Linked DNA regions of Homo sapiens: region 1 is linked to region 2. Evidence: fine-mapped expression QTL. A gene starts in region 2. The other region holds a variant in brackets. All regions are shown on one strand. Distances are between the middles of the regions.

The links. PIP is the estimated chance that this variant, and not a neighbour inherited with it, causes the effect.
Region 1: its variant is fine-mapped to the expression of AGTR1 in lung (TOPMed, PIP above 0.99).

The regions. Positions count from the first base shown.
Region 1 is chr3:148,654,085-148,662,430 of GRCh38, reverse strand. No RefSeq gene overlaps it. Among named protein-coding and RNA genes, the nearest start is that of AGTR1, 40 kb to the left of the region's middle. The variant A/G (reference allele first, on the strand shown) is at 3,623.
Region 2 is chr3:148,693,298-148,701,643 of GRCh38, reverse strand. It overlaps AGTR1 (angiotensin II receptor type 1), which reads right to left and starts at 3,741. Exons shown (of 3, transcript NM_000685.5): 1 at 3,517-3,741. It also overlaps the pseudogene RPL38P1.

The DNA.
Region 1 (8,346 bases), 39 kb after region 2:
CTAAGATTAAATAGACTAAATTTACTTTTATTTACAGTCTCTTCAAATAACTTTCTTTAAAGACATCACTCTCTTAAATAAAGATTCTTGTCTCACCTAAAGTACTCTCTTAATTACAAAAGGCCAAGCAAAATGCTTCCAAGGAAAAAAGTTTTCTTAGCTTTTATGATCAATTTGTAAAAAAGAAACCTGATATTTTTCAACTGTGTTCCTTTTTCTTTTATAGATTTTACAATTGATTAGATACCTCATTAGTATTTATGTAACAAATACAAATAAGCATGTATAGAGGTAGTAAGTTGCCTTTTGAAACAAGGGACATTCATGTTTTCATCCTTAAACTTACATGTATTAAAAAAATCATGGTTTAGCTAAATAAAACTTTAGCTAAAGAATTAATACTTAAAAATATGTAATTCCTAAAATAATTTCTTTAAATGATAGCAAGAATAGGGTGTTAAAAAATGTTCAGTAATATAGAAAGAGCTGTAATATTCCTTGCACATTATGCTCTGTCGCACCTGAGAAATGCTCATGTTAATGTTTTTCCCTCTGCCGGATCCTTTTCCTTATGCCTCTTTTTGCTCATTAATTCCTATAAATGCCTACATTCTTTAAACCCAATTCAGTTACCATATCATCCACGAAGGCTTCCCTGATGTCCACAGTGGGTGGACTTCCCTCCATTGTGTCCCTAACATGAGGACTTATGTCTTTTTCCATCACATCATGAGCTCTGGACCCTCAGGGACCATATGCCTAGTTAAGTGCCCTTCACAGGGTTCTGCCAACAAGAGAGGAATTTTAAACTTTATTGCATGTTGTTTAATGACATTTATGTTTTAAATAGCTCTTAAGGATTATTTTTGAAGCTGTGCAAATATTGCTCATCACATGATAGAGGCATTTGGAATATAAATATGACTTAAAATATACTGAGCACCAATCATAAAAGATATAGAAGCTAAAGAAAATACCACAAGCCTCCTCATGATTTGTTTTTCCCTTTGAGAATTATTCTCTGTGAAATTTAGTAAGCTAAGAGCTCTGTTTGTTTTTTCCTAAGCTGTGTTTATGAAATGCTGTGTTTAACAGATATTTTTCTAAGTTTGATAAATTCTGTACAAGTTCATGAATTTACACGCAAAACATTTGGCCCTCATTTCATTTCAGTCTTCTTCTAATCAACTTAAATGTACCATCAGCCTCCATCTCACATATTTCAATATTCATTCCACTCCTTCAACCACCTCTTCCCCTCAAATAACCTTCAGAGAAATAGCAATTATTTGAGAAAATGAAATCAAGTAAATAAGCTGTATTAAACTAGAAACCAAGTAGCCAGCCGTATTAAAGATATCCAAGGTTTGTATGTCTGGGTGAAACAACAATAAATATTTATTTTGATGCTTCTTTTTATGAGCATTTCAAGGCCCAGCTGTGGTATTAATGGCTTATCAAGCAAACCTATGCATTAAGAGAAACTGTTTTCATTTAGATAAATGGAAGCAGAGGCAAAGGAAAATGATGCAAGGCTCACCTTGTGAAAGTCACAAATTAGATACAAAGCACTGCCACAGGCAAATTTGAATTCAATAGAATAAAGCTAGCAGCCATGAACATCAGGTAATAGGCTTATCAAATGAGGTTTGTATTTTTTATAATGTACATTTTATGGGGACCAGTGTAAAACCAGTAGGCAGAATAAAATATAATTTTAAATATAATATAATAAAATATAATATATATTTTATATAATATATATTTTAAATATAATAAAATATAATTTTAAAAGAAAAATTCAATGAGCGATTCTTTTTCTAAGTTGAAAAACAACCTGTCTCAAATTTGCACCAAATGAAAGGCCCAGAGAAGTTTGTAAATGAGCTCCCTCACCTCCTAAAACCTTATGATTCTACCCACAGAATCTCATCTTCTACTCCCACGTACCATACCAGCCTCCAAGCCTGCCTCAAGACAGGAATATTTGGCATAAAGTACAGTATTAAAAAAAATAAAGGAATAAAGGATGAAAAACCTGGGTCAGCACTTATGATACAAAACCACATAGATTCAGTTTAAAAAAATACTTATCGTTTTGGTCATGAACATCATTTTATAAGTGCATTTATCCAACATTTATTCAATACTCATTATGTGCCAGTGTCTATTAACTCATTTAATCTTCCCAAATTTCTGAAAAACAATAGACCATGTCCTTTAAAACAAAATTCATTTATATTAAAATATAAATACTACATGCAATAAAGGTCTTATGTTGAGCCATATGTTGAACCAAAGTCTTATGTTGAAATGTTGAAACTTAAAATTGGGCTCGTCCCCTACATCAGGATCTCTGTTTCCTTTGAACTTCTGCCGAAATTGTTAACCTATAGAAGTGCACGTGTTTTCCTTGCTTTATTTGCAAGCTTGCATTGCTGTTATTCTAGAGTAATTAGCAGCACACACCAGGATTCCTCTCTTTCATTGCTGTCACCATCTTCCAACGGCTAACAGACTCTTAGTTTCTAATCCTCCATGGATCAGATTAATTTAAAATAAAATCCTAATGAGATAGGAACCTAGCATACAGTCATAAATCATCTTTTATGTATCACCACTCTGTTGGAAGCTTTACAGGGTAGAAATATGACAAATGTGTATGTTGTAAGGTTGACATATTTATAAACCGAGAATCCTAAAATATTGTGACATATGCAAAAGTGGAATTATGTACAGACTAGGAAAGTACATGGCAGGAATGGAGCCTGTTGGCAGAGTAATGCTTCACAGAAGCCTAGGAGCTGAGTTTTTAAGGATTAGTAAGAGTCAGTGAAGGAAAAAGTGCCAGAAAGGAGAGAAAATAGGTAGAGAAAATTAAGAATTATGAAGGATCAGCATGTGCAAACACATGAAGGCATGAAACTGCCTGGTGGAGCCGGGAAATTGCACGTAGGTTGTTATTACTGGAGCATCAAGTAAATAGGTGGAGAAATGTACTCATTAGTGTAATTGTTGCTACTATCATAAATACATCCTCAAATTTCAGTGACTTAACAGAACACAAATTTATTTCTTATTCATGTAAAAGACCAGTGGTAGTGTTCCTGACTGGTGAGTGCCAGTCTTCTACACCATGTAGTGACTCAAGGATCCAGATTTCTTCCACTTTGTGGTTCCGTTATTCTCTAAGACTTTGTCTCCCTGGTATTCAGCTGGCAAAAGAGGAGAGCGGGGGTGAGGAGAAGGCTCTTCTGTTTAAACTCTATTAGCACAGGAGCAACACATCTCACTTCTGTTGATAGTCCACCGGCAAGAACTAGTCACATCGACCATTCTTAAATGCAAGAAAAGTCAGGAAACGTAGACCCTAACTGACAGTAACTTTTCAATAACCACTTATATTATGGAAGGGAGGAGCACCAAGTTTAAGGATCAGCTAGCTGTCTCAGCCATGGGGAACTACTTATTCCTTTACTCATGCTGACTTCTCACTAATCAGTTTAACTAAAGTCTGAAATTAGGGCTGAGGAAGTGAATGGAACTCTTGGCTGATAGAGGGAGCATGGATAGTAGAAAGATCGTTATCCTTTCCACCCTTCCTGAAGCTCCTGATTTTTCC[A/G]GAGCAAGTATGGGTCCATCAAAGAAATGATGGCTTGAGAAGGTACACAAATGCGGCCTCTTGGAGAGGGGAGATATGGCTATTGGGGGAACAAGGTTAGGATGTCTGAATAAATTGAGTCCTCATTTAGTTAAGCCTTCGAATAGTTAATGTTCATTTTACTATTTCACTGATAGAGATCTCATGTTATTTTGTTTAGGATCAGTGTTTATTGTGAAATCATCTGTTCCACAATGATGACTTCAGGAATTTTAGACTGTAAAGCAAATGTTTAAACTTTCAGATTATGTGAAAACTTTCAATTATTTATGCATTGACTTACTTGTTTATTTAACAGTAGTTTCTAAGCACTTATATGCCAGGTGCTTGAAGAGAAACAAAGCTGTAAGCATATCTCTGGGTGGTTGGGTGGGATTTAGAAGAGTAGTTCTCAACATTTTTTTGATACCAACACTTCTAAGGATTGACACATATTCGCAGTGGAATTAATTTTCAACCTGCAAGATGTGCTGTTCGCTCCCATCCACCCTTGCCACGGGGATCAATGCCAAACCTCCAGTGAGGATCCTCTATATTTGCAACTTGACAAAGTACTATAAGTGATACAATATGATGTTCTTTGGCAGGTCATGTCTCCATCTTGTGTCCCACTGATAATTACTGATTCTGACATTCAGCTACCACCTCAATAAGGCTGAATGCATTCCACATGAGTAAGCCAGAGATTTCAGTAGATAGAATACAGGGGCTCTAGAAAGGAGAAAATGCAATAGGATATATTCAGAGTGTTGTAAGAGAGACAGCCATATCTCATTAAAAAATTGTTTTAAAAATATCATATACTGATTCTAGCTAAACCATCCAACTGTGTAGTAGCTACCTAATTACTAACGGTAGATTTTTGACAGGTATATCTATGTGGACATTTTTGTACCTGAAATCAAGAAGAAAAAAAAGATAATCATATGTGAATTCAAGATAAAAAAATACAAGGAGAAAGTTTCGGAACTTAATGTTTTTATGCAGTTTGACAATGTTAACGTGCTTGAGCTACTGTTGAATAAAAAGGCTGAATTACAATAGGTGTTGAAAGTGTTCAATGAAATAAATCCTGTTGAGTCTCAGGTCCTTTGAAGTGTGTATTATGCAATCACTAAGAACCGTTTGCTTGAAATCAAGTACTTGCCCTGCTTGTACTTTGCTATATACAATTTCACATTAGTTAGACGAATTAATAACCATTACAATTTCCAACTTCATTAGAGGTGGGGATTCTGTCTTGAATTTCTGTAGAAGGAAATAATTTGCTGCTATTGTGGATAGGTATCAATTGTCAACTCTAGTTCCATAGACCTGGTATAGTTGTTTTTTTTTTTTGTACCTTCTGTCAGTTTGAGGTCAGTTTCTTCTTATGAATGAGAAGCCGCCTTTGCCCTTCAAGAAAATGAAATAAAGCCAGAATAACCTTCCTGCTTCCCCTGCCTGCCTTCCCAGTCTAGTATTTCAGCATCTGAAGAGTTTATTTTTGGATGTCATTAAATATAGCTAGTGATCCTTTAAATGAAATGGATTAAATGGCAAATGGCTTAGCATCTTCTACCCTTCAGTCTAGTCACCTGAAAAAATTCACAATTCAAAATATGATTTATAACATAACCCTTCTTCATCTCTATTTCTATTATTTCTTGGGAAAAAAGTTTCCTTGCTGATAATGTTGAAGTGTATGCTGACGTTACTACCTTTCATCAATATCTTCTTATGGTAGTAAAGTGGCTACTTTTTAGTTTTCTCACCTGTTGTTTGGAATTTTCCATGGCTTCAAAGATTTTACAGGGGAAGAAAAAAACCATAATTTCCCCAAGACATATTTTGCCAATGGAGAGTTTTCTCCCTTTAGGAATTTTCATATGTGTATGATATTTTGAGCCATTTGTTTGTTAATTCTCACAATTTCTTACAAGTAGTCCTGTCTTCCAAAGCTAAAAATATACTGCAGCTACATATCCTAAGTGATAATGCATATATATACATATATATACTATATGCTATCATATCGTATACACATATATCTGATAAAATGATTTGAACACATTAATTATTAACAACTTTAATTTTTTTAAACTGAAGAACATTATCTCAAACACATCTTTTCTTTTGACAGTACAAAACTGAGGTCTTTTCTTGAATAATGAGATTCTGAATTGATTGGACACATGAGCAGGTATAGACCCAAATGTCATTGAGGGGAAATTTGGGTAAAATACAAGAAAAGTTTTCACTTTTAAGAGAACTGGTTTCTAATCTAATTTATTAGATTCAACAAATGCATATTGAGCACCATCTATAAGTCTAGGTGAGTATGAGAAGTGAAATTAAACATTAAAATATCTCTGGGCTCCTAGTCCCTCGGAAGTGACAATTTAGCAGCCACAAAAAGAATAAAATATCTGGGAATAGAGCTAAATAGGTAGGTGAAAGATCTCCATGGCACGAATTATAAAACACTGCTGAAAGAAAGTAGAGATGACACAAACAAATGGAAAAGCATTTCATGCTCATGGATAGGAAGAATCAATATTGTTATAAGGCCATTCTGCCCAAAGCAATTTGCAAATTCTATACTATTCCTAAAAAACTACCAATGTCATTTTTCACAGAATTAGAAAAAAAATTCTAAAATTCATATCAAACCAAAAAAGAGCCAAGTAGCCAAAGCAATCTAACCAAACAGAACAACACCAGAGGAATCACACTACCTCACCTCAAACTATACTACAAGGCTACAGTAACTAAAACAGCATGGTACTGGTACAAAAAACAGACACATAGACCAATGGAACAGGTTAGAGGACCCAGAAATAAAGCCACATACCTACAACCATCTGATCTTTGAGAAAATTCATAATAAGCAGTGGGGAAATAACATGCTATTCAATAAATGGTTCTGAGATAACTGGCTAGGCATATGCAGAAGATTGAAACTGGGCCCCTTCCTTTCACCATATACAAAAATCAGCTAGTAGTGGGTTAAAGACTTAAATCTAAGACTTAAAACTATAAAAGCCCTAGAAAACAACCTAGGAAATACCATTTTGGACACAGGCCTTGACAAATACTTCATGACAAGAAGTCTTCAGAAGCAATTGCCAACAAAAACAAAACTAGACAAATTAATTATTTGTCTATTTAGAAACCTAAATTGTTTGTCTATTTAGAAACCTAAAACTAAAGCATACTGTGCAGCAAGGGAAACTAACAACAGAGTAAACAGACAACCTACAGAATGGGAGAAAATATTTGCAAATTCTGCATCTGACAAGTTCTAATATGCAGAATCTATAAGAAATCTAAACAAATCAAAAAGCCAAAAACCCCAAACAGCCCATTAAAAAACGGGCAAAGAACATGAGCAGACAATTCTCAAAAGAAGACACATATGTGGCCAACAACCACATAAAAGAATGCTCGGCTGGGGTTGGTGGCTCAGGCCTGGCATGGTGGCTCACACCTGTAATCCCAGCACTTTGGGAGGCTGAGGTGGGAAGATCATGAGGTCAAGAGATTGAGACCATCCTGGCCAATATGGTGAAACCCCATCTCTGCTAAAAATACAAAAATTAGCTGGGCATGATGGTGCACACCTGTAGTCCCAGCTATTCAGGAGGCTGAGGCAGGAGAATTGCTTGAACCTGGGAGACGGAGGTTGCAGTGAGCTGAGACTGTACCACTGCACTCCAGCCTGTGACAGAGTGAGACTCCATCTCAAAAAAAAAAAAAAAAATGCTCAACATCACTAATCATGAAAGAAATGCAATCAAAACCACCGTGAGATACCACCTCACACCAGTCAGAACTGTTATTATTAAAAATTCAAAAAACAACAGATGCTGGCGAGGTTCCAGAAAAAAGGGACTCCTTATACGCTGTTAGTGAGGGTGTAAATTAGTTCAGCCACTGTGGAAAGCAGTTTGGAAATTTCTCAAAGGAAAAACAGAACTACCATTTGTCCCAGCAAACTCATTACTGGGTAAATATTAAAAAGAAAACAAATTATTCTACCAGAAAGTCACATGCATTTGCATGTTTATCACACCCCTATTCATAATAACAAAGACATGGAATCAATATAGGTGCCCATCAACAGCAGACTGGATAAAGAAAATATGGTACGTATACACAATGGAATACTATGCAGCCATAAAAAGGATGACATTTTGTTCTTTGCAGCAACGTGGATGCAGCTGGAGACCATTAACTCAAGGGAATTAATGTAGAAACAGAAAACCAAATACCACATGTTCTCACTTATAAGTGGGAGCTTAACATTACGTATACATGGCAACAGTGGACACCGGGGCCTCTTTGACAGGGGAGGGTGGTAGGAGGTTGAGGGTTGAAAAACTATCTATTACTGGGTACTATGCCCAGTAGGTGGATGATGAAATAATTTGCACACCAAATCTTTGCAACGTGCAATTTACCCACGTAGCAAATGTGCACATGTACCCCCAAATCTACAATAAAATTTGACAAAAAAAAGAAGCGACAATTCAGAATTGGACTTAATTATGGGCTTCCCATAAATTATATTAAGACGTCAGAATCTAATGGTTACAACCCTTTTCCTTCACTAGCTTCTCTCCTATTGCCAGGCTATTTCAATAGCTTAGGATATGTAGACATCAGCGCAACCCGCAGAATTAGTAATTATTCCCTCAAAGGAC
Region 2 (8,346 bases):
CATTCTTGGTAATAGGAAGGAGACTGATAATCACTGAGAGATTCTAGACATTTGTTTCTACTTAAGACAGTTAGAGAATGCACCTATCGAAGAAACAAACACAAACAAAACAAAAACAAATTCAAACCCTTCTAAATTAACTATAAGAATAATGTAATCATACAGCATTTATACTACATAATGAATTTTTTGTTACTTAAATATTTTGGAAGACAATTTTGATTTTCATATGCAAGAAAGTTTTTCCTCATCTGAGCATCTGCTTTGATAAGAAGAAAAATCCCATAGCAAATATTTTAATGTTAATACAACCACAGCTAGCAGCAATAGTCACTAGTCCTTTTATGACTGTTCCAAACATATACTCTGTTTTCTATTTCCAGTTGTCTAATTTGTCACTAACGTAATAACTAGGGAAACATCTGGCAATTTATAGTTCTTTAAATTATAAGATTTTTTTTCTGTGATTGAAATATTGCATTTTAGAGCTTTAATAGGATAATGGTAGTCACTTGCCAATTTAGTTGAATATTACCTTAAGTCCCTATAGATATTCCTTGATTTAAGATGGCTTTATATATTAAGCTATTAAAAAGTTGATTTTTAGAAGCTAAAGTTCATATTATGAATAAAACAAAATGTAAAGTGATAGCTAAATTTAGGATACAAATCGATCAAATTTACTGTTGCTTATCAGAGATTGAGTATACTGCTTTAACAAGCAGCTACAGTGAAAAGAAACACAAACCACATAATCCAATGATCTTAGGCAATTTTGAAAAAGAAACATTAGGAGAATTTTGAAGGAAACTAATAGCATTTTCCAATCATCACGTGTTGGAAAGCTGATTTGTCAGTTTGCTAGATAACATGGGAGAAAAGTGTTCCTAAGCTGGGCTTGGACACTTGGTCACATTGTGTTGCTCTGGCTCCATATTTGTTTATTGACACAGCATATCTTCAAAACAACGTTTTAATCTTTACAACACTTGGACTGACTTCAAACTTCTAAACACAATTCTTAATTTGGTAGCCTACTTGGGAGACTCTTTGGCATTCTCCAGTCATGACTGACCAGAAAAAGGGCTAGGTAAACTAATAAGCATGCGGCTAGAGGGCAGGAGCTCGCATTAAGCAGCCAAAACACCTAAATGTGAGGGGTCACTATTTTTGTCCCTGTAACAAATTCGAAAGCAAAATACAGCAACTCTCAGTTATCTGCTTGAAAGGACACTGTGGCAGCACAGATAAAATGACAGCAGACATGCATCATGCATTTAAACTATGAGTTTTAAATTCCTTCTCAGCTAAGCATTTTACCTGGGCTTTGGGTAAGTAGCAGAGTAAACTTTTCTTCCTTATTTTCCCTCTAGCATAGGGGAAAATTAGTCATTAGTATTAATTAGTCATAATTGAAATAATAACAGCAGTCGTAAGTAGCAGCAGGAACAAAAAACCAAAACAAAATTATATACACAAATACTCACACAACTCTGATCCCAAACTAGAAAGAAGAAAAAGAAAAGTGAGAAACCTGAACAACCCACAAATCTGCCCTTTTCTGAATACTGACCCACGATAAGAGAGAGAAAGACTGAAGCTTAGAATGCTGTGGGACAGCAGCATTGCCGCAGCACCTGTGACTGAAAGACATTTTGCAAATCGCAAGGAAGACAAGTCTTCCATTGGCATCAGTGGAACCGGTGGAAGAAAACCAATTTTATTCTGAGTTGGATGATGGAAGAGTTGATTCAGTTTAAGGTCAAAGAAGAGCAGAACCAGAAATCAAGGCCTCAGGATGGGAACAAAGAACAATGAAGTCAGGGGGAAAAAAGGTGGCGGGGAGAGAGAGTGGGTAACAGACTTGAAACTAAGAATCACAAAACTTAAGCAAATGTTGAGACCTAGCAATTATGATGGGCAGTTTCTATAACCTAGCCTTAAGCTTAGACTTTTATTTTAAAGCAATAACCAAAACAAAAGAAATTAAGGAATTATATCACTGGAGGGAACCTTATGGGCAGAGACTTGAGGTTCAGAGTTGTGAAATAATGCTCTTACTATCACACAGCAAGTTAAGTGGGAGTCTCCATTTCCCTTCTCCCCATGCTTTCCTGCCCCTGCACTGTCAGGAAGGGTGGTGGAGAGGAAGGAGAAGGTACCAGGGCACCCGGGAATACATCACAGCCTGAGGACAGGTTATGCAGGTGGGGCCTTTATAGCTAGGGAAACACCGGAGAAGACAAGGGAAGTATGGCAGTTTCTTCCTTAGAGAAGACTTATAAGGGGGTTAAAGCATATGCTATGTGAAATAAACACCTGGAGATCCAAAACCCTCAGGTGGTAACTAATAATAAGAGAATCATGTTGGGATGCAGCATCTTCAGCGGGAAGCACAAGTTGCTCAACAAAGTAATAAAATAGATCAATAGGGTGCCAAATTTCTTGCCTCTATTACTTTCTCTTCTCAGAATGACACAGGAAATAAATGTAGCCAAGTCCCAAATCTGATCCCAGTACCCAAACTTTCATTAAAAGAGGGCTCCTGAAGGGGGGGAGTAGGTTTTTAATACTTAACGAGGCTATCAGCAAACAAAGAGAAGAGGCCCAGGTGGGCTCAATAGCCAGGTCACAAATGGTTGCCCAAAGAAAAAAACGGTGCAGAAGGAGACGCTTTGGGGAAGAATTGCTGAGGTCTTCGGGAGACTATAGCAGGCTGGCACTATGGAGATGTTTACCTGGACATTTAAGAAAATTGGAGGATGGAGTTGGGTGTCGGGCAGTGGCCTGCCAGAGGCTCTGTTTAGTCCTGGAAGCAGGAGACCTTTTGCTAAAATTCTGTCTCAGTTACACACATGCATTGGCTAAGGCTGTAGGGATTGGGGTGTGGAGACATCTTGCTTCTCCTTCCTCAGTTTGATTATTCAAAGGACATCTGGGAACCCTGAGGGTGGGAGAGTTTGGCCAAGGTTGGAGCGATGTCCCGTGTCTAGGACCCACCGCTATGGTTTGCAGGGAGAGAGCTAAAGGGACGTGAGCAGTGCAGGGACATTGACTGGGAAGCAGAGGGCGTGGATGGAGACACTCTTAACTTCACCTCAAAAGTAGCACAACTTTTAAACGAACGCCTTGCAGAGTCATACCGGCTTCCCGCTCAGATGATGGCTAAAATACAAGAGTTAACTAAAAGCCTCAGGAAGAAAGTTTATTGAATTGCATCTTATTTCTGTAGATTTCTTCCTTGCACTCGGAAGAGTTTGGTTAAAATGGATTGAGAATTTCGAGGCACGTGGCAAACAAACCTACCTTGTTCCCTCCCATTCCAGAAGCCCCTCACCTGATTTGGGAAAGTGTGGCCAGCTCCAGGGGCAGGCGCTGACCAGAACTACGGTCGCTCTTTCCTTGGTCCCCGAGAGCTTCCCAGTATAGAGCCAGCAGTTAGGACACCGTGACATGAAACTTAGCACCCCGCCCTTGAAGTCCCCCAAGCATGCCTGGCGGTCCGCGCGGACTCACCCGCGCCCCGGGCGCTGCGTCACGTCCCGCCGAGGGCCGGCTGCGCTGGTGCGGGTCTCCCGCCCGCCGCCTCGGCGTCCCGGCTGTGCGCCCTCACTCGCTGGGTCCGCTCCAGCCGCTCCCCATCGATCACCGCCGCGGCCCGGCAGAGCTGCTAGCGGCGCGCCGGTCCAGACGTCCTGTCACTCGCTGCTGCCTGGGGTCCTGGCTGTCAGGCGCTGGAATCATTGGCGAGGAGGCAGCTCCGAATTTATAGTGAGGGGCGTTGCTGCTTCTTGGGTTCCGGGGACGAGGCTCTGTTTTGCATTCCCTCCTCCTCCGCCCCGCCCCGGGAGACCCTCCCGGCCCAACCTCCTCCCTCTCGGGATATTGACGGCAGCAAGGATGATGCCACAGTCGTCCCGTGTCAACTATCAGATCAGCGTTCACCTGGTCCCGAACCCCGCCTAGCGAGGGGTCGTGAGGGAGAGCGAGCTGGGGGTACAGGAGTATCATTTCCTGCGGAGATTCGTGTTCTTCAACATTTTTTTTTTCTGAACTTGGAAAACTTTTAAGGACGAATTAGAGAACTTCTTTCTCTTTCCTATGAGTAACTCGAACTTTGGTAATACAGTTGTGGATCATAGATTACATGGATTAATTCCAGGGTTATGAAATTCAAGGGTGGACACTCATTTGTTCCTATTGGACATGCTACCCAAGTTGCATTTTAAAAATGTATTTTAAAAACCCAATAAATATTTAAAGAAGAAATAATATCAATTCTTCACAAACTCTTCCAAAAAATAGAAGAGTAAGGATGATCTCCCAACTCATGCTATGAGGCCAGTATCACCCTGATAACAAAACCAGATAAAGACATCACGAGACTACAGATCAATATTTCTTAAGAGTATAGATAAAAATTCTCAACAAAATGTAGGCAAATTGAATCCAATAACATATGAAAGGGACTATACACCATGGTCAAGTGAGGTTGATGCCAGAAAGCAAGATTAGATTAGTTTACCAAAAATCAATTAATGTTAGATAGGTGAGTAGGGTGACTGTAGTTTACAGTAATCTATTGTATATTTCAGAGTAGCTAGGAGAAAATAACTTGAATGTTTCTAGCATGAAGAAAAGACAAATATTTAAGGTGATGGATATGCCAATTGCACTGATTTGATCTTTATATGAATGCATTAAATTATTGCATGTACCTAAAAAGTCCTGTCACTCGCTGCTGCCTGGGGTCCTGGCTGTCAGGCGCTGGAATCATCGGCGAGGAGGCAGCTCCGAATTTATAGTGAGGGGCATTAAATTATTGCATGTACCTAAAAAGTGTACATCTATTGTGTATCAATAAAAATAAATTTAAAGAAGTAAAAAATGGACAAAGCCTACATGATTGTCTAAAAAAATTTTTAAAAACTATTGGACAAAATTCAACACTTTTTCATGCTAACACTCAACAAACTAGGAATAGGAACTTCCTCAAACTGTGAAGTTTATTTATGAAAAACTTAACTAATATCACACATAATAACGGAAGACAACGTTTTTATGTCTAAGATCAGGAACAAGACAAAATGTCTAGTCTTCCCATTTCTATTTAACTTTGTACTAAAGGTTCTAGTGAGGGCAATTGGACAAGAAAAAAAGATAAATGGCATCCAGATTAGAAAGAAAGTAAAACAATTTCTATTTGTAGATGACATGATCTTGTATTAAAAAGCCCTAAGGAATCAATTAATTAACTATTAGAACTAAGAAACAAGTTGAGCAAGTTTTTAGAATACAAGATCAATATACAAAAATCAGTTGTATTTCTATACACTAGCAATAAACAATCAACAAATGGAATTAAGAAAACAATTCCACTGTTGGCTTCTCACCACTTGCTGTGTGGGTCTGTGTCCTCTCCCTGCCTCACATGCTGCCATGCCTCAAAAAGTTAAGGAGATCAAGGACTTTCTGCTTACAGCCAGGTGAAAAGATGCCAGATCTGTCAAGGTCAAGAGAAATAAGGATAATGTGAAGTTTAAAGTTTGATGCAGCAGATACCTTCATACATTAGTCATCATAGACAAAGAGAAGGCAGAGAAACTGAAGCAGTTCTGGCACCCTGGTTTGTTAGAGAAGGAGATGAAATCAGACACACTGATTTGAACTGTGTTAAAAATTTAAAAATTCAAAGATAAAAACAATTTTACTTACTATAGATCAAAAGAGTAAAAATACTAAGAAATGACCTGGTGTAGTGGCTCACTCCTGTAATCTCAGCACTTTGGGAGGCCGAGGTGGGTGAATCACAAGGTCAGGGATTCGAGACCAGGCTGGCCAACATCGTGAAACCCTGTCTCTACTAAAAATGCAAAAGAAAAAAAAAAAAAAAAAGCCAGGCGTGGTGGTGCATGCCTGTAGTTCCAGCTACTCAGGAGGAGGAGGCTGAGGCAGAAGAATCGCTTGAACCCAGGAGGTAGAGGTTGCTGTGAGCTGAGATTGTGCCACTGCACTCCAGCCTGGGTGACAGAGTGAGACTCCATCTCAAAACAAACCAACCAACCAACAAAACAAAACAAAACAAAAAAAACCCTAAGAAATAAATTTAACAAAAGGATCTAAAACTTGTAGTCTGAAAACAAACAAAAAGAATTGTTGAAATAAGGTAGACCTAAATAAATGGAATGACATTCCATGTTCTTGGATTGAAAGATTTAATATCGTTACAATGGCATTAATCTTCAAATGATCTACAGGTTAAACAAAATCTCTATCAAAACCCAGCAAGCTTTTATTGCAGAAATGAATGGAGTTATCCTAAAAACATGTAGCAGTGCGAGGGGCCCAGAATAGTCAAGACAATTCTGAAAAAGAACAAACTTACCAATTTCAAAATTTACTGCAAAATTACAATAAACAAGACAATGTGGTACTGGCATAGCAATAGATAGAAAGATCAATGGAACAGAATTGTGTCCACAAACTAAACCCTTACATTTATGAGCCACTAGATTTTGAAAAGGGTTGAAAAAATGCAGAATGAGTAATCTTTATTACAAATGGTACTGGAATAATTGGATATCTGCATGCAGAAGAATGAAGTTGGACTCCTTATAATACCACATGTAAAAATTAAGTCAAAATGGATCATAGACCCAAGCTTAAGAGAAAAATTATAAAACTAAATAGAAAACGTAGGAGTAAACCTTTGTTACCTTGGGTTATGCAAAGCCATCTTAGATACAACTCCAAAAGCATAAGAAATACAAGAAAAAGTAGGTAAATTAATTTGATTTCATCAATATTAACAGCATCTATACTTCCAAGGGTATCAAGAAAGTGAAAAGAAAAAGCCAAGAATGTGCAAAGATATTTGCAAATTATATACCTGATAAGGACTTGTGTATAGAACATATAAAGATAATAAAGCACACACAAAGATAATAAAAACACCATTAAAAATGGTCAAAGGATCTTAATATACATTTCTCTAAAGAAGGTAGACAAACACATAAAAAAACTCAACATTATTAGCCAGCAGGAAAATGCAACTCAAAGGAACAATTAGTTATGATTTTAGGCCTACTAGGATAGCTATAATCAAAAAGTCAGATAGTAACAAGTGTTGTCCAGAATGTGGAGAAATTGGATCCCTCATATATTGTTGGTGGGAATATAAAATAGTGCAGCCATTTTGGAAAACAGTGGCAATTCTTCAAAATGCTAAGCATAGATAGAGTTACCATATGGCTCAGCAATTCCATTCCTAGGTATATACTCATTAGAAATGAAAACATATGTCCACACAAAAATGTAGACGTGAAAATTCATAGCAGCATTATTCATAATAGCCCCAAAGCAGAAATAAGTCAAATATCTATCAACTGATGAATAGATAAAATGTGATATCTCCATACCATAGGATATTGTTTGGCAATAAAAGGGAATAAAGTACATGTTACACATGGAAGTGCCTTGAAAACCTTGTGCTAATTGAAAGAAGCCAGTCACAGAAGAAGACATATTATATGATTTCATTTATATGAAATATTCAGGAGTGACATAACTGTAGAGAATTTTGATTGCCTAGGCTGAGAGTGGAGGGGTAGGAGGGAATGGTAGTGTCTGCTAATTGGACGATGATAAAAAATTGTACATTTGATTATGGTGATCATTACACAACTTTTGTATGTTTGAAAACATACAAAAAACATTGAACTGTACATCTTTGTTAAAAGACAAACCTAGTCAAATTAAATTTAACAGTGCTTAATTGAGCAAAGAGTGATGTGCAAATCGGGCAGCCACTGAACTGCAATAGGTTCAGAGAGACTCCAGCACTGCCTCGTGGTTGAAAAAGATTTATGGGCAGAAAAAGGAAAGTGATGTAAAGAAGACAAAAATGAGGTACAGAAATAGAATTGGTTATAATTTGGCATTTGCCTTATTTGAACACAGTTTGAACAACTGACCACCTTAGATATGCTGAAACTCTGTGATTGGCACAAGAGTAGGTTTCAGTCTTTTCAGCATCCAGTTAGGTTACAGTTCACTACATGCTGAGAAACTTTTAGGCCAAATTTAAAATACGTAAGGAAGCAGCTTTAGGATAAACTTAATTCTTTAAATGGGTGAACTGTATAGTATGTAGAGTATATATAAGTAAAGCTATTTTAAAAAGGTAAAATATGAAATTTGTGTAGATGAGTAAAGACATGAATGTCTGACTTTTGTTTCTTGCTTCCAAGTTTCTGAAGAGAGAAGAGGGGCTCAGTTCCTATCTTTCATGCAATGGCTAACACCTCTGTGCTAGACCACATTGTGGATCAGGAAAGTAATATAAAT